4 linked regions of the Homo sapiens genome follow. The protein of the gene in region 1 purifies or fractionates together with the protein of each later gene. This does not show direct contact. Each region holds a gene or a part of one and is shown in the gene's direction. Other genes may lie near its edges.

What was found.
Region 2: the proteins of ALDH2 (region 1) and FGB purify together in Homo sapiens (affinity purification with mass spectrometry; 3 studies listed by BioGRID and IntAct, with this or other methods). This does not show direct contact.
Region 3: the proteins of ALDH2 (region 1) and SERPINA1 purify together in Homo sapiens (affinity purification with mass spectrometry; 3 studies listed by BioGRID and IntAct, with this or other methods). This does not show direct contact.
Region 4: the proteins of ALDH2 (region 1) and TF purify together in Homo sapiens (affinity purification with mass spectrometry; 3 studies listed by BioGRID and IntAct, with this or other methods). This does not show direct contact.

What each region holds. Positions count from the first base shown.
Region 1 is NC_000012.12:111,790,920-111,797,956, forward strand, and holds part of ALDH2 (aldehyde dehydrogenase, mitochondrial isoform 1 precursor), read left to right. Parts: intron 1-386; coding exon 387-500; intron 501-1,141; coding exon 1,142-1,244; intron 1,245-1,678; coding exon 1,679-1,863; intron 1,864-7,037. UniProt on the Homo sapiens protein: Required for clearance of cellular formaldehyde, a cytotoxic and carcinogenic metabolite that induces DNA damage.
Region 2 is NC_000004.12:154,559,166-154,566,014, forward strand, and holds the start of FGB (fibrinogen beta chain isoform 1 preproprotein), read left to right. Parts: upstream 1-3,845; 5' UTR 3,846-3,853; coding exon 3,854-3,967; intron 3,968-6,642; coding exon 6,643-6,834; intron 6,835-6,849. UniProt on the Homo sapiens protein: Cleaved by the protease thrombin to yield monomers which, together with fibrinogen alpha (FGA) and fibrinogen gamma (FGG), polymerize to form an insoluble fibrin matrix. Fibrin has a major function in hemostasis as one of the primary components of blood clots.
Region 3 is NC_000014.9:94,378,603-94,385,602, reverse strand, and holds part of SERPINA1 (alpha-1-antitrypsin precursor), read left to right. Parts: intron 1-2,223; exon of another isoform or gene 2,224-2,361; 5' UTR 2,362-2,365; coding exon 2,366-3,011; intron 3,012-4,461; coding exon 4,462-4,732; intron 4,733-5,991; coding exon 5,992-6,139; intron 6,140-6,962; coding exon 6,963-7,000.
Region 4 is NC_000003.12:133,756,383-133,763,419, forward strand, and holds part of TF (serotransferrin isoform 1 precursor), read left to right. Parts: intron 1-448; coding exon 449-627; intron 628-1,386; coding exon 1,387-1,564; intron 1,565-2,792; coding exon 2,793-2,947; intron 2,948-7,037. UniProt on the Homo sapiens protein: Transferrins are iron binding transport proteins which can bind two Fe(3+) ions in association with the binding of an anion, usually bicarbonate.

The sequences.
Region 1 (7,037 bases):
GCACCTGTAGTCCCAACTACTTGGGAGGTTAAGGCAGGAGGATCACTTGAGCCCAGGAGTTTGAGGCTGCAGTGAGCTGTGATCACACCACTGCACTCCAGCCTGGGTGCCAGAGAGAGACTCGGTCTCAAAAAACAAACAAAAACCCACTGTTGTTCTAAGTGAATGCTGTCAGGGGAGGGGCAAAGACACAGGGAACCCCAGCGAACAGACTCCTTCTCCGTCCCATTTAGAATTCCCATGTAGTGCCCCATACAATTAGCTTCTGACCACATGTGTCCTTGGCAGACTGTCCCACCCTCTCTGAGAAAGGATGTGTCTTCCCCTGGTTGAGCCCTTCAGAATAGGAGGGTGACTCCCAATGTCCCCTGGCTGTTTGCTCACAGGCTGGCTTTCCCCCTGGTGTGGTCAACATTGTGCCTGGATTTGGCCCCACGGCTGGGGCCGCCATTGCCTCCCATGAGGATGTGGACAAAGTGGCATTCACAGGCTCCACTGAGGTAAGGTGACCCTGGCCTCAAGCTTGCAGCCTCCTTGGCCCAAGCTCCCCCTGTCCTCAGTGGACGACATGCTCAAGGTGAGCTCCCGGGTGTCAAGCGGAGGCCTTTTCCTCCAGGACGACCCTGTAGGTACCAGGAGGGGTGGGGCAGGGTTGAGCCCTTCGTGGTCTGGTTGCCACACTAGCTGCCCTTGGGAGGGGCCAGTGTCCCATGTGGACTAAGGAGGCCAGGCCTGGCCAGACTCCACATAGCCCAGAGCTGACCGCTTGCCCCAAATCAAAGCATCTTGGCCAGGTCAGACTCCTTGACCAGGACTGCCATTGTGGTTAAAAATTAGCCTTGTGTGGTGGTGTGTGCGTGTGGCCCCAGCTACTTGGAAGGCCGAGGCAGGAGGGTTGCCAGAGCCTGAGAGGTCAAGGCTGCAGTGAGCTGAGATCACGCCACTGCACTCCAGCCTAGGTGACAGAGCGAGACCCTGTCCAAAAGAAAAAAAAAGTGAACGTCTATTTGGTGAAATTCTCTAGGTCTCTCGTGGTCCAGTTGCTCACTCAAGCTGTGGGGGACTCTGTTCTGTGTCTATAGAGTGCTGGACTCTTTTCTCCCGGCACTGAGAGCTTGTTCCTGTCTTTCTGTCCCCACAGATTGGCCGCGTAATCCAGGTTGCTGCTGGGAGCAGCAACCTCAAGAGAGTGACCTTGGAGCTGGGGGGGAAGAGCCCCAACATCATCATGTCAGATGCCGATAGTGAGTTTCCAGCTGGAGAAGGCCTGGCCTTGAAGGTAGCCCTGGCCACCTGTGTTGTGGCTCCAGCCGATCCTGTCGCCCCCCCAGTGCCCAATGGCGTTGGTTGCTGTCCCTCGGGCCTCAGGATAAGACGCCAGCGCAGGGCCTGCATGGCCTGGCCTTGGCCTGTCCCCAGCCTCTCCCTGGCTGCTCTCTGCATCATCAGGCTAGGCCACGCCCCTGCTATCTGACTCATCCACTTGCCGCCATCACGCCCTTTGTCCTGGTTGGCAGTGGGCTCCGAGAGCACCCCTCATCTCCCTGTATCTGTCTCTGGCACCCAGCAGGCATCAACCCTTACAGTGGTGGGAACAGGCTCCATTGGGCAGGCGGCCACCAGGGCCAGGGTCCTCCTCCTCACTGTCACCTTTCTGTCTCCTGCCCACTTCCCGCAGTGGATTGGGCCGTGGAACAGGCCCACTTCGCCCTGTTCTTCAACCAGGGCCAGTGCTGCTGTGCCGGCTCCCGGACCTTCGTGCAGGAGGACATCTATGATGAGTTTGTGGAGCGGAGCGTTGCCCGGGCCAAGTCTCGGGTGGTCGGGAACCCCTTTGATAGCAAGACCGAGCAGGGGCCGCAGGTGAGCCAGGCAGTGCCGCAGGGTCTGGGTGTCTAGAGCCAGCATGAGAAGCAGAGAGGGCATCGGGCTCAGATCAGTTGGGACTGGGTTCAGGTCTCAGCTCTACCACACAGCAGCTGTGTGCCTTTGGGAAGCTATGTTCCCTCCCTCAGCCTTCATTTCCCCATCCCGAGCCGTGCCCTGCCTCATTCACAGGGTGGCTGTGATGTAGAAATTAATCCTGGGAAGCACTTTGTAAATTGCATATATGTAACAAATACCAGGAGTGTCTGCAAAAGGGAGTGTGTGTTTCCAAGACCTTGGTCATCAGTAGAAGTGTATCCACCAGAAGATACACAGCTCTGTGAACCTTCGTGTCTGAGAGCCATGGTATGGCTAGTATAGGGACTTTATTTCACTTCATGTTTTGAGCTGTTTGATTTTATTTATTTATTTATTTACCTATTTATATTTTAGAGACAAGGTCTCTCTTTGTTGCCCAGGCTGGAGTGTAGTGGTGCAATCATACCTCACCTCAGCCTTGAATTCCTGGGCTCAAGGAGTCCTCCTGCTTTGGCCTCTCAAAGTGCTGGGATTACAGACATGAACCACCACACCTGGCCTGGATTTTACTTTTGAGCAGTTGTAGGTTTATAGAAAAATAGAGCTGAACGTACAGAGGGTGCCCATATATTCCTTCGCACCTCCCTGTTCCACCAGTTTCCCCTTTATTCACATCCTGCATGAGTGTGGTTCATCTGTTAGTATTGATGAGCCAATACTGGTACCTTATTATTCACTTAGGTCTGTAGTGTATATTCGGGTTTTTTTTTTTAATTTTTATTTTTTTTGGAGACAGAGTTTTGTTCTGTCACCCAGGCTGCAGTGCAGTGGCACGATCTCGACTCATGCCTCCCGGGTTCAAGCAATTCTTGTGCCTCAGCCTCCTGAGTAGCTGGGACTACAGGTGCGCACCACCACGCCTGGCTAATTTTTTGTGTTTTAGTAGAGACAGGGTTTCACTCTGTTGCCCAGGCTGGTCTCGAACTCCTGAGCTCGGGCAATCTGCTGTCAGGCACCCAGCCTCGGGGTCATTTTTTGTGTTGTACTTACTATGGGCCTAGACAAATGTATCATAATGTGTATGATACCATCATTCTAGTATCATATAAATATATTTGTGCCCTGAAACCCCCGTCCTCCACCTATTCTTCCCTCTTTTCCTCCCCTGAGCCCTGGCAGGCAACCACTGATTTTTTTTTTTTTTTTTTTTTTTGAGACAGAGTCTCGCTCCGTCACCAGGCTGGAGTGCAGTGGCGTGATCTCGGCTCACTGCAACCTGTACCTCCTGGGTTCAAGTGATTCTCCTGCCCCAGCCTCCTGAGTAGCTGGGACTTACAGGTGCATGCCACCATGCCCAGCTAATTTTTGTATTTTTAGTAGAGACAGGGTTTCACCACGTTGGCCAGGATGGTCTCGATCTCCTGACCTCGTGATCCACCCACCTCAGCCTTCCAAAGTGCTGGGATTACAGGCGTGAGCCATTGTGCCTGGCCGATCTTTTTATTGTCTCTATAGTTTTGCCTTTTCCAGATTGTCTTATACGAATCATACAGTAGGTAGCCTTCTCAGACTGGCTTCTTTCTTTTAGCAGTTTGCATTTCTGATTCCTCAGTGGGGAGCCACAGCCATGTCTGAGGATGGACTGGCCTTGCCATGGGACAGGGTTATGTGCCCAACATCCCCCTCTTTGATTTTTTTTAGAGACAGGGTCTTGTTCTGTTGCCCAGGCTGGAATGCAGTGGTGTGATCATGGCTCACTGCAGGCTTAACCTCCTGGCCTCAAGTGATCCTCCTGCTTCAGCCTCCCAAGTAGGTGGGACTACAGGCACACGTCACCACACCTGGCTAATATTCATATTTTTTATAGAGATGAGGTCTTGCTATGTTACCCAGGCTGGTCTTGAATTGCTGGGCTCAAGCAATCCTCCCACCTCAGCCTCCCAAAGTCCTGGGATTGCAGGTGTGAGCCACTGTGCCTGGCCTCCAACATCTCTATCTTTAATAGCTTTATTGAGATATAATTCACGTAGCATAAAATGCACCATTTTAGTGTACGATTCAGTGATTTTTAGTATATTCACAACTTTGTGCAACCATCACCACTAATTCTATAATATTGTCATTGCCTCCCCTAAATATCCTGTACCCATTAGCAGTCACTCCCCATTCCTCCCCCTACCAGGCCCAGGCAACCACCAATCTATGTTCTGCCTATAGATTTATCTATTTTGGACATTTTATGCAAATGGAATCCTACATGGTTCTTTGTGTCTGGCTTCTTCCAAGTAGCCATGTTTTAAAGGTTCATCCATGTTGTAATAAGAATGTATCAGAACATAAAAGGCCAAGTAATATTCCATTGTGTGAATAGACCACATTTTGATTTTTCTATTAATCTGTTGACAGACTTGATTGTTTCCACCTTTTGGTTACTGTGAATAGTGCAGCTAGGGGCACTAACATTTCTTTCTTTCTTTTGAGACCGTCTCGCTCTGTCACCCAGGCTGGAGTGCAGTGGCATCATCTCAGCTCACTGCAACCTCCACCTCCTAGGTTCAAACAATTCTCCTGTCTCAGCCTCCTGAGTAGGTGGGACTACAAGTGCACGCCACCACGCCCTGCTAATTTTTGTATTTTTAGTAGAGACAGGGTTTCACCAAGATGGTCAGGCTGGTCTTGAACTCCTGACCTCAGGTGATCCACCTGCCTCAGCCTCCCAAAGTGCTGAGATTACAGGTGTGAGCCACCGCACCTGTCCTAACATTTCTTTTCTTTTTTTTTTTTTTGAGACAGAGTCTTGCTCTGTCTCCAGGCTGGAGTACAGTGGCACGATCTCGGCTCACTGCAACCTCCGTCTCCCAGGTTTGAATGATTCTCCTGCCTCAGTCTCCCGAGTAGCTGAGATTACAGGCGCCCACCACCATGCCCAGCTAATTTTTTGTATCTTTAGTAGAGACAGGGTTTCACCATGTTGGCCAGGCTGGTCTTGAACTCCTGACCTTGTGATCCGCCCACCTCAGCTTCCCAAAGTGCTGAGATTACAGGCTTGAGCCACTGCACCCGTCCTAACATTTCTTTTTGTCTCATTTCTCTTTGTGGCTAATTATTAAGATAATATAAACTTGCATTAATAAATTTAATGAGAAAGTGTTTAGGCTATGTGTGGCAGCTCACATCTGTAACCCCAACACTTTGGGAGGCTGAGGCAGGAGAATCTCTTGAGCCCAGGATTTCGAGATCAGCCTGGGCACTACAGCAAGACCTCATCTCTACTAAAAAAAAAAAAATGCAAATCATGACCAGCCTGGCCAACACGGTGAAACCTCATCTCTACTAAAAATACAAAAACTATTTGGGCGTGGTGGTGGGCGCCTATAATCCCAGCTACTCGGGAGGCTGAGGCAGGAGAATCACTTGAACCCGGGAGGCGCAGGTTGTGGTGAGCCAAAATCGTGCCACCGCACTCCAGCCTGGGTGACAGAGTGAGACTCCACCTCAAAAAATAAATAATTTTTTTTTTAAAAAAAAGCAAAAAAAAATTAGCCAGATGTAGTGATGCGTGCCTATACTCTCAGCTACTTGGGAGGCTGAGGTGGGAGCCCAGGAGGTCAAGGCTGCAGTGAGCAGTGATCACACCACTGCACTGCTGCCTGAGTGGCAGAGTGAGGCCCTGACTCTTTTTAAAAAAAGGTATTTAATGTAAAAAATAAGACTTTGTTGCATTTCTTTTATTCTCCATTGGTAACCACTCATGCACACACAGTTATGCTGTTGTATGTTTATTTTTTAAAAAATAGGCTGGGTGTGGTGGCTAACCCCTGTAGTCCTAACACTTGGGAGGGAGGCCAAGGTGAGTCAATTACTTGAGCCCAGGAGTTAGATACTAGCCTGGGCAACATAGCAAAACCCCATCCCTACTAAAAATATAAAAATTACCCAGGTGTGGTGGCACACACCTGTGGTCCAGCTACTCGGGAGACTGAGATGAGAAGATACCTGAGCTCAGGGAGATTGAAGTTGCAGTGAGCCGTGATTGTGCCACTGCTCTTCAGACTGGGCAATAGAGTGAGACCCTGTCGCCCTTCTCCCCTACCCTATAAAGGAGTATATAAGTGCATATTGTTCTACAAGCTTTACTTCTTTTTTTTTTTTTTTTTGAGACGAAGTCTCTGTTGCCAGAGCTGGAGTGCAATAGCGCGATCTTGGCTTACTGCAATCTCCACCTCCCTGGTTCAAGCGATTCTCCTGCCTCAGCATGTGCCACCATGCCCAGCTAATTTTTGTATTTTTAGTAGAGACGGGGTTTCACTATGTTGGCCAGGCTAGTCTTGAACTCCTGACCTCATGATCTGCCTGCCTCGTCCTCCCAAAGTGCCGAGATTACAGGCGTGAGCCACTGCCCCTGGCCCAAGCTTTCCTTCTTTTTACAGAGTATCTTGGGCCATCTTTCTGTGTCAGTTAGTTCACAGATCTATTAGTGATGACAATATACTGGATGCACCGTAATAATTTTAACCAACCCCTCTACTGATTTATACTTAGAATTGTTTCCATCTTTTGCCTTTACAAAATGCTCCCCCAGCCTGGGCTACAAGGCAAAACCCTGTCTCTACTAAAAATACAAAAATTAGCCCAGCGTAGGGGTGCATGCCTATAGTCCCAGCTACTCGGGAGGCTGAGGTGGGAGGATCATTTGAGCATGAGAGGCAGAGGTTACAGTGAGTGGAGATCGCACCACTGCACTCCAGCCTGGGTGACAGAGTGAGACCCCATCTCAAAAACAAAAATACAAAAAAAAAAAAATACTCCCTAGTGAATATCCTTGTTCATTTCTCTTTGTGCATATGTAGAATAAATTCCTAGAAGTTAAATAGCTGGGCCAAAGGATCTGAGTATATAATTTTTGAGCAATATTAATAAACCACTTGCTCTAAAGGCTGTACCAGTCTGTCATCCTTCTAACAGTATATGTAACGGTCTCTTGCTATCAGTGTATTTTCTTCCTAAACTTTTTGGTAATCTTATAGTTGAAAAGTAAAGATTGATTTGATGTCCTTTTCTCCGGTAGGCTGAGGAAGTTGGGCCTTTTTTGTGTTTTCTGCTATTGGCCCTGTGTGTTTCCTCTTCTGATC
Region 2 (6,849 bases), on another chromosome or scaffold:
TCCCTTCCCCTTCCCCTTCCCCTTCCCCTTCTTCTTCTCCTCCTCCTCCTCCTTCTTCTTCCAGCAAATATCAAATTTGGAGAGACAATCTGGTAGATTTAGCTTGCGTAAAGGGTCTGTCTACCCCTAGCTTGGTCACCTGTGGTTAGAGGGTCAGGGTGTTGTAGTACTGACAGGACCACTGGAGCTTCATACCTCCATTTTAGGGGTCATTCCAGGAGAAGGGAGCAGCACTCCCAGAGGTGTTCATTACACCCTTAATGGTTGTGGGTCTCAATGTGACAAAAGCAGAAGAGCATCTCTATCTTTTCTTAGCTCTTGTGATCTCCATCCTGTTGTAGGAGAAAATGTCCTATTATCCCTTATTACCATGCTCTATGTCAGCTCCCATAAGAAATGGAAACTGACATCTAAGCCAGTAGAGGGAGACATTCCACAAGAGATGGCGTCATCTCCTATTTCTTCCCCACCATATGCTTTCCCACTAAAGATGACCAACAAATTGCAGGTGTCACCACTGCACTGCTCTCAGGCTTGCCCCAAGAGCTCTGGTCCAGCCTGGCCTCCAACTCGTCAGTGTTAATCAAGGTAACACAAGGAAAATATATACAGAGACTAACAACTTATTACAGTACCTCAAAACCTATGCATATTTAGACAACGAGAATCAGTATTCCTTTTAGTCATTCGTTCATTTATATATTCATGAATTTGCTCAACCGATATTTATTAAATACTGGCTATGTGCCAGGTGCATGACATAAACTGTACAGTCATTCAAACCAAGTTTCAAGTCTAAAAGCCCTTTTCCTTTGAAGTTCGTTTCCCCCTGAAGAAAGTTAGATCCTTAAGTTACCAGTCCCAAAGCCTCACCTCCCCCAATCTTAGGCTCAACACTAATTATTGTAAGTAGTTTTCATTTTCTGTCTTTCCTTTTAGACTTAAGGCTTCGCCAAGGTCTCCCCGGCCCCCAGCAAACTACCTGCTATGAAGTAGATGCTCTGTAAATAGTTGTTAAGCACAAATTGCCTTGTGCTATGGAGACTGGGCCTGACATGAGTTGTAAAAGTATCAACAAGTGTATTGACAATGGGTATCGGCAAGTCTTTGCCCTTCAAGCCAGAGAGCTGCTGGGCAGGACAGATTATCTCTGTTTTCTCTGTCACTGATTTACTACCCTTGACTTATGCAATGACATCAGCTAATATGAAGAACACTGCACTGATGACCTCAAAATAACTGAACAAATAGTACTCCCTTTCCCCTCCACCAATGGCATCAACATTCTAAAAAAATTTAAGCATCTTAATAAGCGGTGTCTCTGCAAATATATTTCTTCCCTGAAAACATGATAATATTCTTTGTAATATTAGGCAATTTAGAGTCCCAGTGTAACTGTACATAACTCTACAGAAAAAAGACATATCTAACAAGAACTAGAATTACAAAAACTCATTATCACTGCATTGCACATGCTTCACACAGACATGAATACTATACCCACATATGAGGGTAAAAAGATAAGTGAAAGTAAAAGCTATGAGTGAGTGTGTCAGCCTGATACATTATGGTCCCAAGATGACAGGCTGGCCAAAATACTCCAAAAGAACAAACACACAAAAAGAAGGTAGAGGTAAATTTTTATAATGTTTGTATCCTGTTGGGAAATATAATGTAATGGGCACAGAGTGTGGACTGTAGAGTCAGACAGTCAGGGGTCAAGTCCTCATACCAGCACCTACTACCTATACACTCTGGGGTAGTTTACTTAACCTCTCTGAACCTGTTTCACCATCTGTAGAACATAGTGGTTTCAAGAATTAAATACGATAAATGACTACCATAATTTGGCATCTGAGGCATGTACCAATGACAGCCAGTTCACTCATTCATCCCGTAATTATGTATTGAACGCCTACTATGTCTGTCTTGCTCACCAATGCATTCCCAGCCCCTATCACACTACCCGTCACTGAGGAGACTCTCAAGAACTATTTGTAAGATGAATGTTAAGTCTGTGCTGTTATGGTGCATGCATGCTGGATTGAATCCATCCTCCTTCTGACCATGGGAAGAATGCCAATCAGAGTAGAACAAAGTAGGAAAGTAAAGGAACCTTCACTTTAGTGTTGAACAAGAGTCTATTATATACTAGAAAAAACTTTACAAATTTACAGACTTCTGAAAGTTAAATGATGATTCTATTGTTAGTTGATCAAACATCAGTCATTGAAAATGTAGTAATACGTTACCTCAAAAGAAAAAAAAAAGGTTAGAGTTTTCTTAACAGATAATTCTTTTTAAATCTGTAAGAATCTGTACGTCACTAAAATAAAATCCTGTCTAGATTATTAAAATAAACTTTGTTATCAGTTATATTTTCATGGAAAATATTCCTGTATATATTTTAATTAATAGCCACATAGATATTTGCTTTTTCTGTCAGATCATGTATCCCTTTAAAAACCATTAAAGCTAAAGAAAAAAATCTTAAAATATAATATTTACTCATTGCTAATAAAGGGAACACAAATTTGGAAAGACTCAAGTGAATATTTTTTCTTAATTTAAACTGAGTACTTTGTCTCTATTAAGCTAAGTTAAAAGAATTTGGGAGGACAACCTATGCTACCAAGAGAATAATTTGTTTCTAGGAATCTGAGTTAAAAGAATTTGGGAATGCAATCTCTGCTACCTGGAGAAGAAAGAAATGTCGTGGGTCCCACACCATTCTCAAGACTCTGTTTCAAAGCATTGTTTCAATACGCTGATCCAAACCCTGATAACCTGCCATCTTTTTAATAAAATAATTTATAAATTTAATGAGAATGTTTCACTTTCCATACAAAAAACAGAAAAATGCTTTGAATCAATGCACTTACTGGGATTTGGATTACTGACTGGTGTTCCTATTGATTCTTGTAGGAGTTATTAATCCTGATTGCAACACACAAGTGAACAGACAAGAGAGATAAATTTTGTGGCTTGTGGGAAATGAAGGAAAATGGGCCTCATTTAGTCTGTGAGCATACTAATTGAAATAGATGTATGAAGACTTCACCAGTGTTAAAATAACATTGTTTTTATAAATCATATGATATAAACTATATAACAATAAAATAGAATGTTAAACATGTATTTAATCATCATCATAATTTTGATTCAGAAATCTATAATTTATTAGTTATCTTAATAATGTTTAGAATTTGTTGAACATTTTACCTTATGTGAATTAAGGACAAAATATTAAAGCTATTCAGCACAAAAAAAGGGTCTTTCTGATGTGTATTTTTCATAGAATAGGGTATGAATTTGTTATTTTGTTATTTTGATTAATGTCTAAAACAAAAGATAAACACATTATGATATAACATTACTATTGATTTTAATGGCCCCTTTTGAAATAGAATTATGTCATTGTCAGAAAACATAAGCATTTATGGTATATCATTAATGAGTCACGATTTTAGTGGTTGCCTTGTGAGTAGGTCAAATTTACTAAGCTTAGATTTGTTTTCTCACATATTCTTTCGGAGCTTGTGTAGTTTCCACATTAATTTACCAGAAACAAGATACACATCTCTCTTTGAGGAGTGCCCTAACTTCCCATCATTTTGTCCAATTAAATGAATTGAAGAAATTTAATGTTTCTAAACTAGACCAACAAAGAATAATAGTTGTATGACAAGTAAATAAGCTTTGCTGGGAAGATGTTGCTTAAATGATAAAATGGTTCAGCCAACAAGTGAACCAAAAATTAAATATTAACTAAGGAAAGGTAACCATTTCTGAAGTCATTCCTAGCAGAGGACTCAGATATATATAGGATTGAAGATCTCTCAGTTAAGTCTACATGAAAAGGATGGTTTCTTGGAGCTTCCACAAACTTAAAACCATGAAACATCTATTATTGCTACTATTGTGTGTTTTTCTAGTTAAGTCCCAAGGTGTCAACGACAATGAGGAGGTGAATTTTTTAAAGCATTATTATATTATTAGTAGTATTATTAATATAAGATGTAACATAATCATATTATGTGCTTATTTTAATGAAATTAGCATTGCTTATAGTTATGAAATGGAATTGTTAACCTCTGACTTATTGTATTTAAAGAATGTTTCATAGTATTTCTTATATAAAAACAAAGTAATTTCTTGTTTTCTAGTTTATCACCTTTGTTTTCTTAAGATGAGGATGGCTTAGCTAATGTAAGATGTGTTTTTCTCACTTGCTATTCTGAGTACTGTGATTTTCATTTACTTCTAGCAATACAGGATTACAATTAAGAGGACAAGATCTGAAAATCTCACAAACTATAAAATAATAAAAGAGCAGAATTTTAAGATAAAAGAAACTGGTGGTAGGTAGATTGTTCTTTGGTGAAGGAAGGTAATATATATTGTTACTGAGATTACTATTTATAAAAATTATAACTAAGCCTAAAAGCAAAATACATCAAGTGTAATGATAGAAAATGAAATATTGCTTTTTTCAGATGAAAAGTTCAAATTAGAGTTAGTGTGTATTGTTATTATTAATAGTTATGAAACACGGTTCAGTCTAATTTATTTATTTGTAGAACAGTTTGTCCTCAACTATTATTTTTGCTGACTTATTGCTGTTAATTTGCAGTTACTAAAAATACAGAAATGCATTTAGGACAATGGATATTTAAGAAATTTAAATTTTATCATCAAACGTATCATGGCCAAATTTCTTACATATAGCATAGTATCATTAAACTAGAAATAAGAATACACAATAATATTTAAATGAAGTGATTCATTTCGGATCATTATTGAGTTTCAAGGGAACTTGAGTGTTGTACTTATCAGACTCTACATGTAAGAACATATAGTTAATCTGGTTGTGTGTGTAAAAACATATGGTTAATCTGGTTAAGTCTGGTTAATCATATTAGGTAAGAAAAATGTAAAGAATGTGTAAGACGAAATTTTTGTAAAGTACTCTGCAAAGCACTTTCACATTTCTGCTTATCAACTAAACCTCACAGAGATAGTTTAATAGTTTAGGCTTTAAAATGGATTTTGATTATTCAACAAGTGGCCTTCATAATTTCTTTAAGTGTTTTTCTTTAAGTATATACTTTCTTTAAATATTTTTTAAAATTTCCTTTTCTCTAGTAAAGCCAGACCATCCATGCTACCTCTCTAGTGGCACTCTGAAATAAAAAGAAAATAGTTTTCTCTGTTATAATTGTATTTGTAATAAGCAGATGAATCACATTTCTTAAAATTTGTTTTAGAGAGGGTAAGCTCTGACTAGGACCATGACTTCAATGTGAAATATGTATATATCCTCCGAATCTTTACATATTAAGAATGTATATAGTCAACTGGTTAAACAGGAAAATCTGGAACCAGCCTGGCTGGGTTTTAATCTTAGCACCATCCTACTAAATGTTAAATAATATTATAATCTAATGAATAAATGACAATGCAATTCCAAATAGAGTTCATCTGATGACTTCTAGACTCACAAAATTGCAAGAGAGCTCAGTTGTTGCTCAGTTGTTCCAAATCATGTCGTTTGTTAATTTGTAATTAAGCTCCAAAGGATGTATAGCTACTGACAAAAAAAAAAATGAGAATGTAGTTAATCCAAATCAAAACTTTCCTATTGCAATGCGTATTTTCTGCTTCATTATCCTTTAATATAATATTTTAAGTTAGCAAGTAATTTTAATTACAATGCACAAGCCTTGAGAATTATTTTAAATATAAGAAAATCATAATGTTTGATAAAGAAATCATGTAAGAAATTTCAAGATAATGGTTTAACAAATAATTTTGTTGATAGAAGATAAGACTAAAAGTGAAATTCGAAGTGGAGAGGACACTTAAACTGTAGTACTTGTTATGTGTGATTCCAGTAAAAATAGTAATGAGCACTTATTATTGCCAAGTACTGTTCTGAGGGTACCATATGCAATAAGTTATTTAATCCTTACAATAATCTTGTAAGGCAGATTCAAACTATCATTACACTTATTTTACAGATGAGAAAACTGGGGCACAGATAAAGCAACTTGCCCAAGGTCTCATAGCTGTAAGTCAACCCTACGGTCAAGACCTACAAGTAGCCGAGCTCCAGAGTACATTATGAGGGTCAAAGATTGTCTTATTACAAATAAATTCCAAGTAGAATCAACCTTTAATAAGTCTTTAATGTCTCTTAAATATGTTTATATAGGAGTCTAATCACCAATTCACAAAAATGAAAGTAGGGAAATGATTAACAATAATCATAGGAATCTAACAATCCAAGTGGCTTGAGAATATTCATTCTTCTTGACAGTATAGATTCTTTACAATTTCGTAAGTTCCAATGTATGTTTTAGGAATATGAGGTCATTACTATTCATAATCTGATACAGCTTTATCCTAAGGCCTCTCTTTAAAAACTACACTGCATCATAGCTTTTTTGTGCAGTTGGTCTTTCTACTGTTACTGAACAGTAAGCAACCTACAGATTCACTATCACCAACCAGCCAGTTGATGGATCTTAAGCAAATTATCAAGCTTGTGATAACCTAAATTATAAAATGAGGGTGTTGGAATAGTTACATTCCAAATCTTCTATAACACTCTGTATTATATTTCTGCCTCATTCCTTGTAGGGTTTCTTCAGTGCCCGTGGTCATCGACCCCTTGACAAGAAGAGAGAAGAGGCTCCCAGCCTGAGGCCTGCCCCACCGCCCATCAGTGGAGGTGGCTATCGGGCTCGTCCAGCCAAAGCAGCTGCCACTCAAAAGAAAGTAGAAAGAAAAGCCCCTGATGCTGGAGGCTGTCTTCACGCTGACCCAGACCTGGTGGGTGCACTGATG
Region 3 (7,000 bases), on another chromosome or scaffold:
GTAACCCCAGCACTTTGGGAGGCCAAGGCAGGCGGATCAAGAGGTCAGGAGTTCAAGACCTGCCTGGCCAACACGGTGAAACCTCAGCTCTACTAAAAATACAAAAATTAGCCAGGCGTGGTGGCACACGCCTGTAATCCCAGCTATTTGGGAAGCTGAGACAGAAGAATTTCTTGAACCCGGGAGGTGGAGGTTTCAGTGAGCCGAGATCACGCCACTGCACTCCACCCTGGCAGATAAAGCGAGACTCTGTCTCAAAAAAAACCCAAAAACCTATGTTAGTGTACAGAGGGCCCCAGTGAAGTCTTCTCCCAGCCCCACTTTGCACAACTGGGGAGAGTGAGGCCCCAGGACCAGAGGATTCTTGCTAAAGGCCAAGTGGATAGTGATGGCCCTGCCAGGGCTAGAAGCCACAACCTCTGGCCCTGAGGCCACTCAGCATATTTAGTGTCCCCACCCTGCAGAGGCCCAACTCCCTCCTGACCACTGAGCCCTGTAATGATGGGGGAATTTCCATAAGCCATGAAGGACTGCACAAAGTTCAGTTGGGAAGTGAAAGAGAAATTAAAGGGAGATGGAAATATACAGCACTAATTTTAGCACCGTCTTTAGTTCTAACAACACTAGCTAGCTGAAGAAAAATACAAACATGTATTATGTAATGTGTGGTCTGTTCCATTTGGATTACTTAGAGGCACGAGGGCCAGGAGAAAGGTGGTGGAGAGAAACCAGCTTTGCACTTCATTTGTTGCTTTATTGGAAGGAAACTTTTAAAAGTCCAAGGGGGTTGAAGAATCTCAATATTTGTTATTTCCAGCTTTTTTTCTCCAGTTTTTCATTTCCCAAATTCAAGGACACCTTTTTCTTTGTATTTTGTTAAGATGATGGTTTTGGTTTTGTGACTAGTAGTTAACAATGTGGCTGCCGGGCATATTCTCCTCAGCTAGGACCTCAGTTTTCCCATCTGTGAAGACGGCAGGTTCTACCTAGGGGGCTGCAGGCTGGTGGTCCGAAGCCTGGGCATATCTGGAGTAGAAGGATCACTGTGGGGCAGGGCAGGTTCTGTGTTGCTGTGGATGACGTTGACTTTGACCATTGCTCGGCAGAGCCTGCTCTCGCTGGTTCAGCCACAGGCCCCACCACTCCCTATTGTCTCAGCCCCGGGTATGAAACATGTATTCCTCACTGGCCTATCACCTGAAGCCTTTGAATTTGCAACACCTGCCAACCCCTCCCTCAAAAGAGTTGCCCTCTCAGATCCTTTTGATGTAAGGTTTGGTGTTGAGACTTATTTCACTAAATTCTCATACATAAACATCACTTTATGTATGAGGCAAAATGAGGACCAGGGAGATGAATGACTTGTCCTGGCTCATACACCTGGAAAGTGACAGAGTCAGATTAGATCCCAGGTCTATCTGAAGTTAAAAGAGGTGTCTTTTCACTTCCCACCTCCTCCATCTACTTTAAAGCAGCACAAACCCCTGCTTTCAAGGAGAGATGAGCGTCTCTAAAGCCCCTGACAGCAAGAGCCCAGAACTGGGACACCATTAGTGACCCAGACGGCAGGTAAGCTGACTGCAGGAGCATCAGCCTATTCTTGTGTCTGGGACCACAGAGCATTGTGGGGACAGCCCCGTCTCTTGGGAAAAAAACCCTAAGGGCTGAGGATCCTTGTGAGTGTTGGGTGGGAACAGCTCCCAGGAGGTTTAATCACAGCCCCTCCATGCTCTCTAGCTGTTGCCATTGTGCAAGATGCATTTCCCTTCTGTGCAGCAGTTTCCCTGGCCACTAAATAGTGGGATTAGATAGAAGCCCTCCAAGGGCTTCCAGCTTGACATGATTCTTGATTCTGATCTGGCCCGATTCCTGGATAATCGTGGGCAGGCCCATTCCTCTTCTTGTGCCTCATTTTCTTCTTTTGTAAAACAATGGCTGTACCATTTGCATCTTAGGGTCATTGCAGATGTAAGTGTTGCTGTCCAGAGCCTGGGTGCAGGACCTAGATGTAGGATTCTGGTTCTGCTACTTCCTCAGTGACATTGAATAGCTGACCTAATCTCTCTGGCTTTGGTTTCTTCATCTGTAAAAGAAGGATATTAGCATTAGCACCTCACGGGATTGTTACAAGAAAGCAATGAATTAACACATGTGAGCACGGAGAACAGTGCTTGGCATATGGTAAGCACTACGTACATTTTGCTATTCTTCTGATTCTTTCAGTGTTACTGATGTCGGCAAGTACTTGGCACAGGCTGGTTTAATAATCCCTAGGCACTTCCACGTGGTGTCAATCCCTGATCACTGGGAGTCATCATGTGCCTTGACTCGGGGCCTGGCCCCCCCATCTCTGTCTTGCAGGACAATGCCGTCTTCTGTCTCGTGGGGCATCCTCCTGCTGGCAGGCCTGTGCTGCCTGGTCCCTGTCTCCCTGGCTGAGGATCCCCAGGGAGATGCTGCCCAGAAGACAGATACATCCCACCATGATCAGGATCACCCAACCTTCAACAAGATCACCCCCAACCTGGCTGAGTTCGCCTTCAGCCTATACCGCCAGCTGGCACACCAGTCCAACAGCACCAATATCTTCTTCTCCCCAGTGAGCATCGCTACAGCCTTTGCAATGCTCTCCCTGGGGACCAAGGCTGACACTCACGATGAAATCCTGGAGGGCCTGAATTTCAACCTCACGGAGATTCCGGAGGCTCAGATCCATGAAGGCTTCCAGGAACTCCTCCGTACCCTCAACCAGCCAGACAGCCAGCTCCAGCTGACCACCGGCAATGGCCTGTTCCTCAGCGAGGGCCTGAAGCTAGTGGATAAGTTTTTGGAGGATGTTAAAAAGTTGTACCACTCAGAAGCCTTCACTGTCAACTTCGGGGACACCGAAGAGGCCAAGAAACAGATCAACGATTACGTGGAGAAGGGTACTCAAGGGAAAATTGTGGATTTGGTCAAGGAGCTTGACAGAGACACAGTTTTTGCTCTGGTGAATTACATCTTCTTTAAAGGTAAGGTTGCTCAACCAGCCTGAGCTGTTCCCATAGAAACAAGCAAAAATATTCTCAAACCATCAGTTCTTGAACTCTCCTTGGCAATGCATTATGGGCCATAGCAATGCTTTTCAGCGTGGATTCTTCAGTTTTCTACACACAAACACTAAAATGTTTTCCATCATTGAGTAATTTGAGGAAATAATAGATTAAACTGTCAAAACTACTGACAGCTCTGCAGAACTTTTCAGAGCCTTTAATGTCCTTGTGTATACTGTATATGTAGAATATATAATGCTTAGAACTATAGAACAAATTGTAATACACTGCATAAAGGGATAGTTTCATGGAACATACTTTACACGACTCTAGTGTCCCAGAATCAGTATCAGTTTTGCAATCTGAAAGACCTGGGTTCAAATCCTGCCTCTAACACAATTAGCTTTTGACAAAAACAATGCATTCTACCTCTTTGAGGTGCTAATTTCTCATCTTAGCATGGACAAAATACCATTCTTGCTGTCAGGTTTTTTTAGGATTAAACAAATGACAAAGACTGTGGGGATGGTGTGTGGCATACAGCAGGTGATGGACTCTTCTGTATCTCAGGCTGCCTTCCTGCCCCTGAGGGGTTAAAATGCCAGGGTCCTGGGGGCCCCAGGGCATTCTAAGCCAGCTCCCACTGTCCCAGGAAAACAGCATAGGGGAGGGGAGGTGGGAGGCAAGGCCAGGGGCTGCTTCCTCCACTCTGAGGCTCCCTTGCTCTTGAGGCAAAGGAGGGCAGTGGAGAGCAGCCAGGCTGCAGTCAGCACAGCTAAAGTCCTGGCTCTGCTGTGGCCTTAGTGGGGGCCCAGGTCCCTCTCCAGCCCCAGTCTCCTCCTTCTGTCCAATGAGAAAGCTGGGATCAGGGGTCCCTGAGGCCCCTGTCCACTCTGCATGCCTCGATGGTGAAGCTCTGTTGGTATGGCAGAGGGGAGGCTGCTCAGGCATCTGCATTTCCCCTGCCAATCTAGAGGATGAGGAAAGCTCTCAGGAATAGTAAGCAGAATGTTTGCCCTGGATGAATAACTGAGCTGCCAATTAACAAGGGGCAGGGAGCCTTAGACAGAAGGTACCAAATATGCCTGATGCTCCAACATTTTATTTGTAATATCCAAGACACCCTCAAATAAACATATGATTCCAATAAAAATGCACAGCCACGATGGCATCTCTTAGCCTGACATCGCCACGATGTAGAAATTCTGCATCTTCCTCTAGTTTTGAATTATCCCCACACAATCTTTTTCGGCAGCTTGGATGGTCAGTTTCAGCACCTTTTACAGATGATGAAGCTGAGCCTCGAGGGATGTGTGTCGTCAAGGGGGCTCAGGGCTTCTCAGGGAGGGGACTCATGGTTTCTTTATTCTGCTACACTCTTCCAAACCTTCACTCACCCCTGGTGATGCCCACCTTCCCCTCTCTCCAGGCAAATGGGAGAGACCCTTTGAAGTCAAGGACACCGAGGAAGAGGACTTCCACGTGGACCAGGTGACCACCGTGAAGGTGCCTATGATGAAGCGTTTAGGCATGTTTAACATCCAGCACTGTAAGAAGCTGTCCAGCTGGGTGCTGCTGATGAAATACCTGGGCAATGCCACCGCCATCTTCTTCCTGCCTGATGAGGGGAAACTACAGCACCTGGAAAATGAACTCACCCACGATATCATCACCAAGTTCCTGGAAAATGAAGACAGAAGGTGATTCCCCAACCTGAGGGTGACCAAGAAGCTGCCCACACCTCTTAGCCATGTTGGGACTGAGGCCCATCAGGACTGGCCAGAGGGCTGAGGAGGGTGAACCCCACATCCCTGGGTCACTGCTACTCTGTATAAACTTGGCTTCCAGAATGAGGCCACCACTGAGTTCAGGCAGCGCCATCCATGCTCCATGAGGAGGACAGTACCCAGGGGTGAGGAGGTAAAGGTCTCGTCCCTGGGGACTTCCCACTCCAGTGTGGACACTGTCCCTTCCCAATATCCAGTGCCCAGGGCAGGGACAGCAGCACCACCACACGTTCTGGCAGAACCAAAAAGGAACAGATGGGCTTCCTGGCAAAGGCAGCAGTGGAGTGTGGAGTTCAAGGGTAGAATGTCCCTGGGGGGACGGGGGAAGAGCCTGTGTGGCAAGGCCCAGAAAAGCAAGGTTCGGAATTGGAACAGCCAGGCCATGTTCGCAGAAGGCTTGCGTTTCTCTGTCACTTTATCGGTGCTGTTAGATTGGGTGTCCTGTAGTAAGTGATACTTAAACATGAGCCACACATTAGTGTATGTGTGTGCATTCGTGATTATGCCCATGCCCTGCTGATCTAGTTCGTTTTGTACACTGTAAAACCAAGATGAAAATACAAAAGGTGTCGGGTTCATAATAGGAATCGAGGCTGGAATTTCTCTGTTCCATGCCAGCACCTCCTGAGGTCTCTGCTCCAGGGGTTGAGAAAGAACAAAGAGGCTGAGAGGGTAACGGATCAGAGAGCCCAGAGCCAAGCTGCCCGCTCACACCAGACCCTGCTCAGGGTGGCATTGTCTCCCCATGGAAAACCAGAGAGGAGCACTCAGCCTGGTGTGGTCACTCTTCTCTTATCCACTAAACGGTTGTCACTGGGCACTGCCACCAGCCCCGTGTTTCTCTGGGTGTAGGGCCCTGGGGATGTTACAGGCTGGGGGCCAGGTGACCCAACACTACAGGGCAAGATGAGACAGGCTTCCAGGACACCTAGAATATCAGAGGAGGTGGCATTTCAAGCTTTTGTGATTCATTCGATGTTAACATTCTTTGACTCAATGTAGAAGAGCTAAAAGTAGAACAAACCAAAGCCGAGTTCCCATCTTAGTGTGGGTGGAGGACACAGGAGTAAGTGGCAGAAATAATCAGAAAAGAAAACACTTGCACTGTGGTGGGTCCCAGAAGAACAAGAGGAATGCTGTGCCATGCCTTGAATTTCTTTTCTGCACGACAGGTCTGCCAGCTTACATTTACCCAAACTGTCCATTACTGGAACCTATGATCTGAAGAGCGTCCTGGGTCAACTGGGCATCACTAAGGTCTTCAGCAATGGGGCTGACCTCTCCGGGGTCACAGAGGAGGCACCCCTGAAGCTCTCCAAGGTGAGATCACCCTGACGACCTTGTTGCACCCTGGTATCTGTAGGGAAGAATGTGTGGGGGCTGCAGCTCTGTCCTGAGGCTGAGGAAGGGGCCGAGGGAAACAAATGAAGACCCAGGCTGAGCTCCTGAAGATGCCCGTGATTCACTGACACGGGACGTGGTCAAACAGCAAAGCCAGGCAGGGGACTGCTGTGCAGCTGGCACTTTCGGGGCCTCCCTTGAGGTTGTGTCACTGACCCTGAATTTCAACTTTGCCCAAGACCTTCTAGACATTGGGCCTTGATTTATCCATACTGACACAGAAAGGTTTGGGCTAAGTTGTTTCAAAGGAATTTCTGACTCCTTCGATCTGTGAGATTTGGTGTCTGAATTAATGAATGATTTCAGCTAAAGATGACACTTATTTTGGAAAACTAAAGGCGACCAATGAACAACTGCAGTTCCATGAATGGCTGCATTATCTTGGGGTCTGGGCACTGTGAAGGTCACTGCCAGGGTCCGTGTCCTCAAGGAGCTTCAAGCCGTGTACTAGAAAGGAGAGAGCCCTGGAGGCAGACGTGGAGTGACGATGCTCTTCCCTGTTCTGAGTTGTGGGTGCACCTGAGCAGGGGGAGAGGCGCTTGTCAGGAAGATGGACAGAGGGGAGCCAGCCCCATCAGCCAAAGCCTTGAGGAGGAGCAAGGCCTATGTGACAGGGAGGGAGAGGATGTGCAGGGCCAGGGCCGTCCAGGGGGAGTGAGCGCTTCCTGGGAGGTGTCCACGTGAGCCTTGCTCGAGGCCTGGGATCAGCCTTACAACGTGTCTCTGCTTCTCTCCCCTCCAGGCCGTGCATAAGGCTGTGCTGACCATCGACGAGAAAGG
Region 4 (7,037 bases), on another chromosome or scaffold:
TGTTCTTTTTCTGTGTTCCCTTTTTCATGCTCAGTAATTGGAAATGAGCATACTGTATTTCTCCTTTATCATTGCCTGGGTTTCCACCTGTGCAGAGTTAGGTACCTACGGGGTCCCCATCTGGATTCCTGGGCCTCTTTCCATCATTCAATCTCTCCACACGGTGCCTCTGCCTCTGGGGTAGTGTTGCCATAACCAAAGACTGGGGGTTGGTGCTGCTAAGATCAGGCTCATGGTGGAATGAGGAGCAATCACTGCTACATGGGCATCAGAAGCCTTTACCTGGCTGTGGGCTCTTGAGCGAGTCATTCTCCCGCATGTTCTCTGGCCTTCAGTGCTCACTCCAGACCTCTCAGCTCATACTTTCTATGATCAATTGAATTTCAAGGATGGGCACCACAGCCCATGGCTCTCCTGTGTTAAGCTCACCTGGGCTTTCCCTCCCCAGAGAACTTGGCAAACAAGGCTGACAGGGACCAGTATGAGCTGCTTTGCCTGGACAACACCCGGAAGCCGGTAGATGAATACAAGGACTGCCACTTGGCCCAGGTCCCTTCTCATACCGTCGTGGCCCGAAGTATGGGCGGCAAGGAGGACTTGATCTGGGAGCTTCTCAACCAGGCCCAGGTATCCCCACCTGCCATCCTCCCCTCCAGCTTAGTGCTCCCTGCTTGGATTTGGGGGTTTTCCTCCTGGCCATCTTGTCACTCTGGAAGTCTGTGTGTTCAGGATACAGTGGGAGCCATGCCACATGTCACTAAGTTCTCTAAAAGCTGGGACTCCCCACAGAGCAGCAGGGAGCCTGCTGTGGTGCTACCGTCTGCCGCCCTTGCCTTTCTGGCTGGTGACACCTGAAGAGGCTCTGTATTGCTCTGTTGCATTCCTTTCTACCTAAACTTCAAGGCCCAAAGCTAAACCCCTCCCCAAGGAGGCTTTCCATGACCCTCCCAGAAGGAAATGGTCTCTCTCCCCATGCCCCTCAGCCCGGCTGTGAGGGGGCTGCCTGCACAGCGGCTTTACTTCCCAAGAGCTGTGTGATTTGGGCTCAGCCAGCTTCCTCTTGCCGAGCCGTCCCATCTGTCCACTGAGAGTTTGACTGGTAACCACACAGGGCAGCCTCTGGATTAGCCACGTTTCTTGTTCTCACCGATGTCTCAACCCGTTCCGGGAGACAGGCACAGAAGCAGGTTCAGGCAAATCGCGGACCCACGAGGGCTACAGGCAGAGGAAGTGCTGGGTGAGCAGGAGCAGGTCCGACTGCCCTCTCTCCTGGCATCTTGAACTTTTTCATGTTGTTTCCTGCAGAGATTTCTTTTCTCTTCAGTCCCATTTCTCAGCCTCCTTTCTTCTGTGTTGCCATCCACTATTCTGTTTTTCTATGAACAGGAACATTTTGGCAAAGACAAATCAAAAGAATTCCAACTATTCAGCTCTCCTCATGGGAAGGACCTGCTGTTTAAGGACTCTGCCCACGGGTTTTTAAAAGTCCCCCCCAGGATGGATGCCAAGATGTACCTGGGCTATGAGTATGTCACTGCCATCCGGAATCTACGGGAAGGCACATGTGAGTACCTGGGAAGAACCAGGTGACCACAAGCACTTGGGAAACCTGGTGAGCACAGGGGCCAGAGATTGAGTCTTTTCAGGGACCTGCACGCCTCTCCTGATGCTCCTTTTTCTGACCTGTCTGTGAGCCCAGTGTTAGACTGATGCTGAATGGCGTTAGTCATTATGAGATGGCCTTGATGTCACCATGGGCTTTACAGGAAATCCACATTTAAAATGACGTGGGTTGGTTCCAGTATTTCCTTTGCATCAATCAGGACTGCCTTACCTACTCTGTGAAGGCAATTAGCTTATCACAGAGTAAGTGAAATAGAACAAAATTGCTATATATTGCACATCTCCAGCCAGTCAACATGTACCATAATGAAGAGGTGCTCTAAGAGAGGTTGATCCCAGTCCTGGATTTCACTGAGTCACTGTGGTTTTGCTTGACCATTCATTTATTCAGCAGACATTTATTGAACATCTAGCCATATGCTCTGCTAGGTGCTGGACATAGGATGGCATGACAAATATATATTTGATTCTGTTGTCCTGGAAATTTCAAACTGGGGAGAAGATAAATGTTTAATGAATAGTCATGCTATTGGATGATGAATTACAAAGTAAGAGATATGTTTAAAAGGGGAAAAATATGACAACAAAATACCATGGCCCTATGAGACTGCAAAACAAAGAAAAATAGGCCCTGGACTTGGCGTTAAGGCAAAGCTTCCTTGAGGAAGTGACTCTTGAGCTCAGTCTGAAAGATGAGCAGATGTACATTTATTCATCAGACATTTATTATGCTGACCATGTGCTAGCATTGCCCTAACCCTGAGGATGCCCTGGTGAACAAGACAGGCAGGGCCCTTTCTGTGTTGGAGCTTCTGTTCTCCTGCAGAAAACCTGACAATAAACAATGAACATATAAATAAGAACACCTCCAGTAGTTAAGTGCTATCTGAAAAACAAGAAGGAAAAAAACAGCCAGAGGTCATATAGTGCCCAGAGGCTGGAGAGGAAAGTTGGCTTCTCGGAAGACATAAAAAACTAAATTTAAATGAGAAGTCAACCAAGAGATTGTGCATTGACTTTGCTTTCTAAGGTGATTAATTCCTTGAATGGGGTCTGTTTGTTTATTGCTGGCAAATCCCAGCATTTGCATGAAGACAGTGAGTAGTGCTGACAAACACCAGGCAACAGCTAGGGCCGCTTCTGATCTTTGTTCTTTTTTTATGCCATAGGCCCAGAAGCCCCAACAGATGAATGCAAGCCTGTGAAGTGGTGTGCGCTGAGCCACCACGAGAGGCTCAAGTGTGATGAGTGGAGTGTTAACAGTGTAGGGAAAATAGAGTGTGTATCAGCAGAGACCACCGAAGACTGCATCGCCAAGATCATGGTATGTCACTCCAGCCTTCCTAGGGCAGCGTCCCTGTCATTGCTGCCTGCTGGCCCCCAAGACTGAGCTAGGGAGTGTTCCTGGGAATGATGCAAAAACCTGGCTCCCAGGAACCTTGCCCTGACTATGTGAGCACAGCCCCACCGGAGGTTCAGAATCTTTGAGCTTGTGGATCTGAAGGGTGCCCACAGGGCTCAGTTTCCTCCTTGTATGAGTGTATGGTGAAAGGGCAGGCTGAGCAGTGCCTGCTTAGGGAGGCTGGACCATGGTGTGGGTGTCCTGAGACCAGTGGTGTGCCACGATCACTGAGATAAGATCCTGAGTACATGGTAGGATCCAATCAGGTACAAATTTGCTTTGTTGATCAAAAGAGTATCCTAGCCTGGCATGGTGGCATGCACCTGTAGTCCCAGCTACTTCGAAAGCTGAGGCAGGAGGATTGCTTGAGCCCAGGAGTTCAGGGCTAGCAACTTAGCAGGACCTTGTCTCTAACAACATTTTTTTTTTAAGAAAGAATATTCCATGTTGGCTTACAGAGAATTTTTAAAATCCTGAATGATATAAAGAAGAAATAAAAAGTACTTATAATCATGTAATTCAGAGAAAATTCCCTTATTGGGATCATTTCATGTAGGTTGCTTGCTACCTTTTACTCACTCACAGTATCTAGTAAGCTTTTCCCATATCATAAATCATTCTTGTAAAACCTAATCTGGAGCTTCTGTGTTAGTGCACACATCGAGATGGGGGAGTATGGTTTGCCTAGAGAGAACATGAAGTGCCAAGCTCCACTCCCCCTCCTCCCCACATTTCTTGCCCTCTGTGTCTCTTCCATTTGGCTATTCTTGAGTTGGATCCTTTATAATAAATCAGCAAATATATTGAAACAAAGATGCATATTATAAAGGTACTTCCTGCCATTGTCAACAGATTTTTGCTGAAATATGTTAATTCTACTTTTTGAGCACTTATGAATAACCATGTATCTTCAGAACTATCTACCATGAAGCAAAAAGGGACCATCAAGCTCATTATTTTATATTTCATACAATTTATAGATATCACTTTATGCTATTTTAACATATATTCCATTTTAATTTTTGTCTGAGTCAAGACAAGAAAAACCAAACTAAGTTAAAGCAAAGCCTACAAATTCAAAACCTGAGTCTATACAAATCTGTTAGCAGTTTGAGTGGCTGGGCTTCAATATTATACTCTGGATGTGATACAATAGATAAAGTTTTTTACGTCTGTAAAAAAAAGGAAGAGCAAAAGACTCTTGGGAACATGTGAAATCTTAAATGAAGATTAAGTACAACCAAATGTAAACATATTTTAAAAGGTTCTTCTTGGACATCATAATTTGCTCTCCTATGAAGATGTCATCGTTTGAGCCTTTAATGTTGGAAATAGCTTACAGATGTTGGGGCAGAAACCAAAGACCAACATTGCCATGTTCTGTGAGACCACGTCCAAGTGGATGATTGCTGGATAGGTATGTTTCATGCATAACATTTAGTTCATAAAATTATATGCTACTTTAGGAGGTCCAGGGCCCATGGATTAATGAAACAAAAGTAACTAATCTCATTGCTAGTAAAGAATTATTGGAAACAAAGTTGAAAGACATAGTTTATTTGGTCCCACACCTGTGACACATCATCACTGTCAATGGGAAGCCACTGACCTGTCCCAATTTCCCAAGGTTGTTATCATGGACATCATGGCTGCAGTAGAAAGTGAAGGTGAGTGTGGAAAACAGATCCCAAAGTGACCAGTGCCCTCGGTTATTGCAGTAATCATGTTCATGAGTAGACACACAGGACTTCCAAAGGGAGTCATCATCTCGCATAGAAACATCATTACTGGTATTACTGGGATGGCAGAAAGGATTCCCAGACTGGAGGAGGAAGATGACTACATTGGATATTTACCTGTGGCCCATGTTCTAGAATTAAGCTTTGAGCTTCTTTGTTTTTCTCATGGATGCCTGCTTGGCTCCTCTTCACCCCAGACTTCAGTGGATCAGTCTTTAAAAGTAAAAAATGGGCTGCCCACTGTGGCATGCAGCTGTAGTACCAGCTACTCAGGAGGCTAAGGTAGGAGGATTGCTTGAGCCCAGGAGTTTGAGTCCAGCCTGGGAAACATAGTGAGACACCATCTCAAAAAAATAAAAAATAAAAAAATAAAAACCAGAAGCAAAGGGTGTACTTCTGGGTTGAGACCAACACTGATGGCAGCTGTTCTGGAAATCATGGATCAGATCTACCAAAATGTCATGAATTAAGTGTATGAAATCAGTAGTCTTCAACACAATCTGTTTATTCTGGCTTATAATTATAAAATGGAACACATTTCAAAAGAGCATAGTACTGGATTGTGTGACAGCTTTGTTTTCTGGAAACTGTGAAGCTAGCTAGGTGGAAATATTCAGCTTTTATTGTATGAAAGTGCTCCACTTTCTGCAACACGCAGCAAGTTCATGAATACAGACTCACTGAACCTACAGGGGCTGGAACAATTACAGATGTGTGGATTACAAGACTGGCAGAAGTGAGAGTCCCATTAGTTTGCTGTGAAATTAAATTAAAGAACTGGGAGGAAGGTGGATACTTTAATACTGAAAAACCACATCCCAGAGGTAGAATTCTTATCGGTGGCTAAAATGTGACAATGGGATGCTACAGAAATGAAGCAGAAACAAAAGCTGATTTATTTGAAGATGGAAATGGACAGAAGTGATTATGTCCTAGAGATGCTGAAGAGTTTGATGGTTGTTTACAGATGATCGATCATAAAAAGGACCTTGTAAAACTACAGGCAGGAGACTATGTTTCCCTTGGGAAAGTAGAGCCAACTCTGAAGAATCTCCCAGTAATAGATGACGTTTGTGCATTTGCAAACAGTTAATTGTTCTTATGTCATTGGATTTGTTGTGCCAAATCAAAAGGAACTAACAGAACTAACTTGAAAGAAAGGACTTACAGGAACTTGAGAGTAGCTCTCTAACAGTTGTGAAACAGAAGATGAGGTGCAGTAGTCCCCCTTTATGTGAGGTTTCGCTTTCTTGGGTTATACCTACAGTCAACCGTGGTCCAAAAATGTTAAGATATTTTGAGAGAGAGAGAGAGCACATTAACATAACTTTTATTATAGTATGTTATAATTGTTTTATTATTGTTGTTGTTAATCTCTTACTGTGCCTAATTTATAAACTTTATCATAGGCTTGTATGTATAGGAAATAAACATTGTATAGGGTTTCAGGTTCCAAGACTGGGGGTCTTGGAACATATCCCTTGAGGATAAGAGGGGACTACCATACGTAAAGTACTTTCTGAAGCTGCTATTTGGGCGTGTCTGAAAAAGTTTGAAAATCTATTAAAAATTGGTTTGAGCCCTGACCCATGAATCCTGAAACTGGTCTGGTGACAGGTGCCTTCAAGCTAAAACACAAAGAATTTAATACACATTACCAGGCAGACTCTGAGCGAATGTGTGGAAGAAATGATTTTTCTCTTTTGGCATCAGTTTGCTACAGTGAGCTCAAATCAAATAGGAAATTATTTGAAATGCATGTTTCAAACTGTGAGGCAAACTCCATTCTTCATATTCAACCTAGATTTTTACTTCTTAAGACATCACCATTTTCAACAGACAGGATTAGTAAAATAGTAGGAGAGCAAACTTGTGTCTGTCTTTTTCCTTTTCCCCTCCTACAACTACCTTTACCTAACCTGTGACTGTATTGTCAGTATAAGGAGTTTTCTGAATCATAGTGAGGAAGCAGATTTCTAAAACCTCAAGTTTCTAAACATGACCTATATATTCAGTTTATGTTTAAAGTTTGGATGTGTAGAGGGAGTTATGGAAAATATATAAAGTGGCTGTTGGGGGGTGCTTTTTAACTTACAGTATTAAAAAAATGCAAGGCTATTGATGTGAAATTACATACATTTCAAATGCTTATGAATCAAATCATTATTGAGGATAATATTTGCTGATGTGTAATTACTATCTTGCATGAATTAAGAGAAATAAATATAGCCATACTTACGTTTTAAAGAAAAAAATGATATTTTAAGACTGAT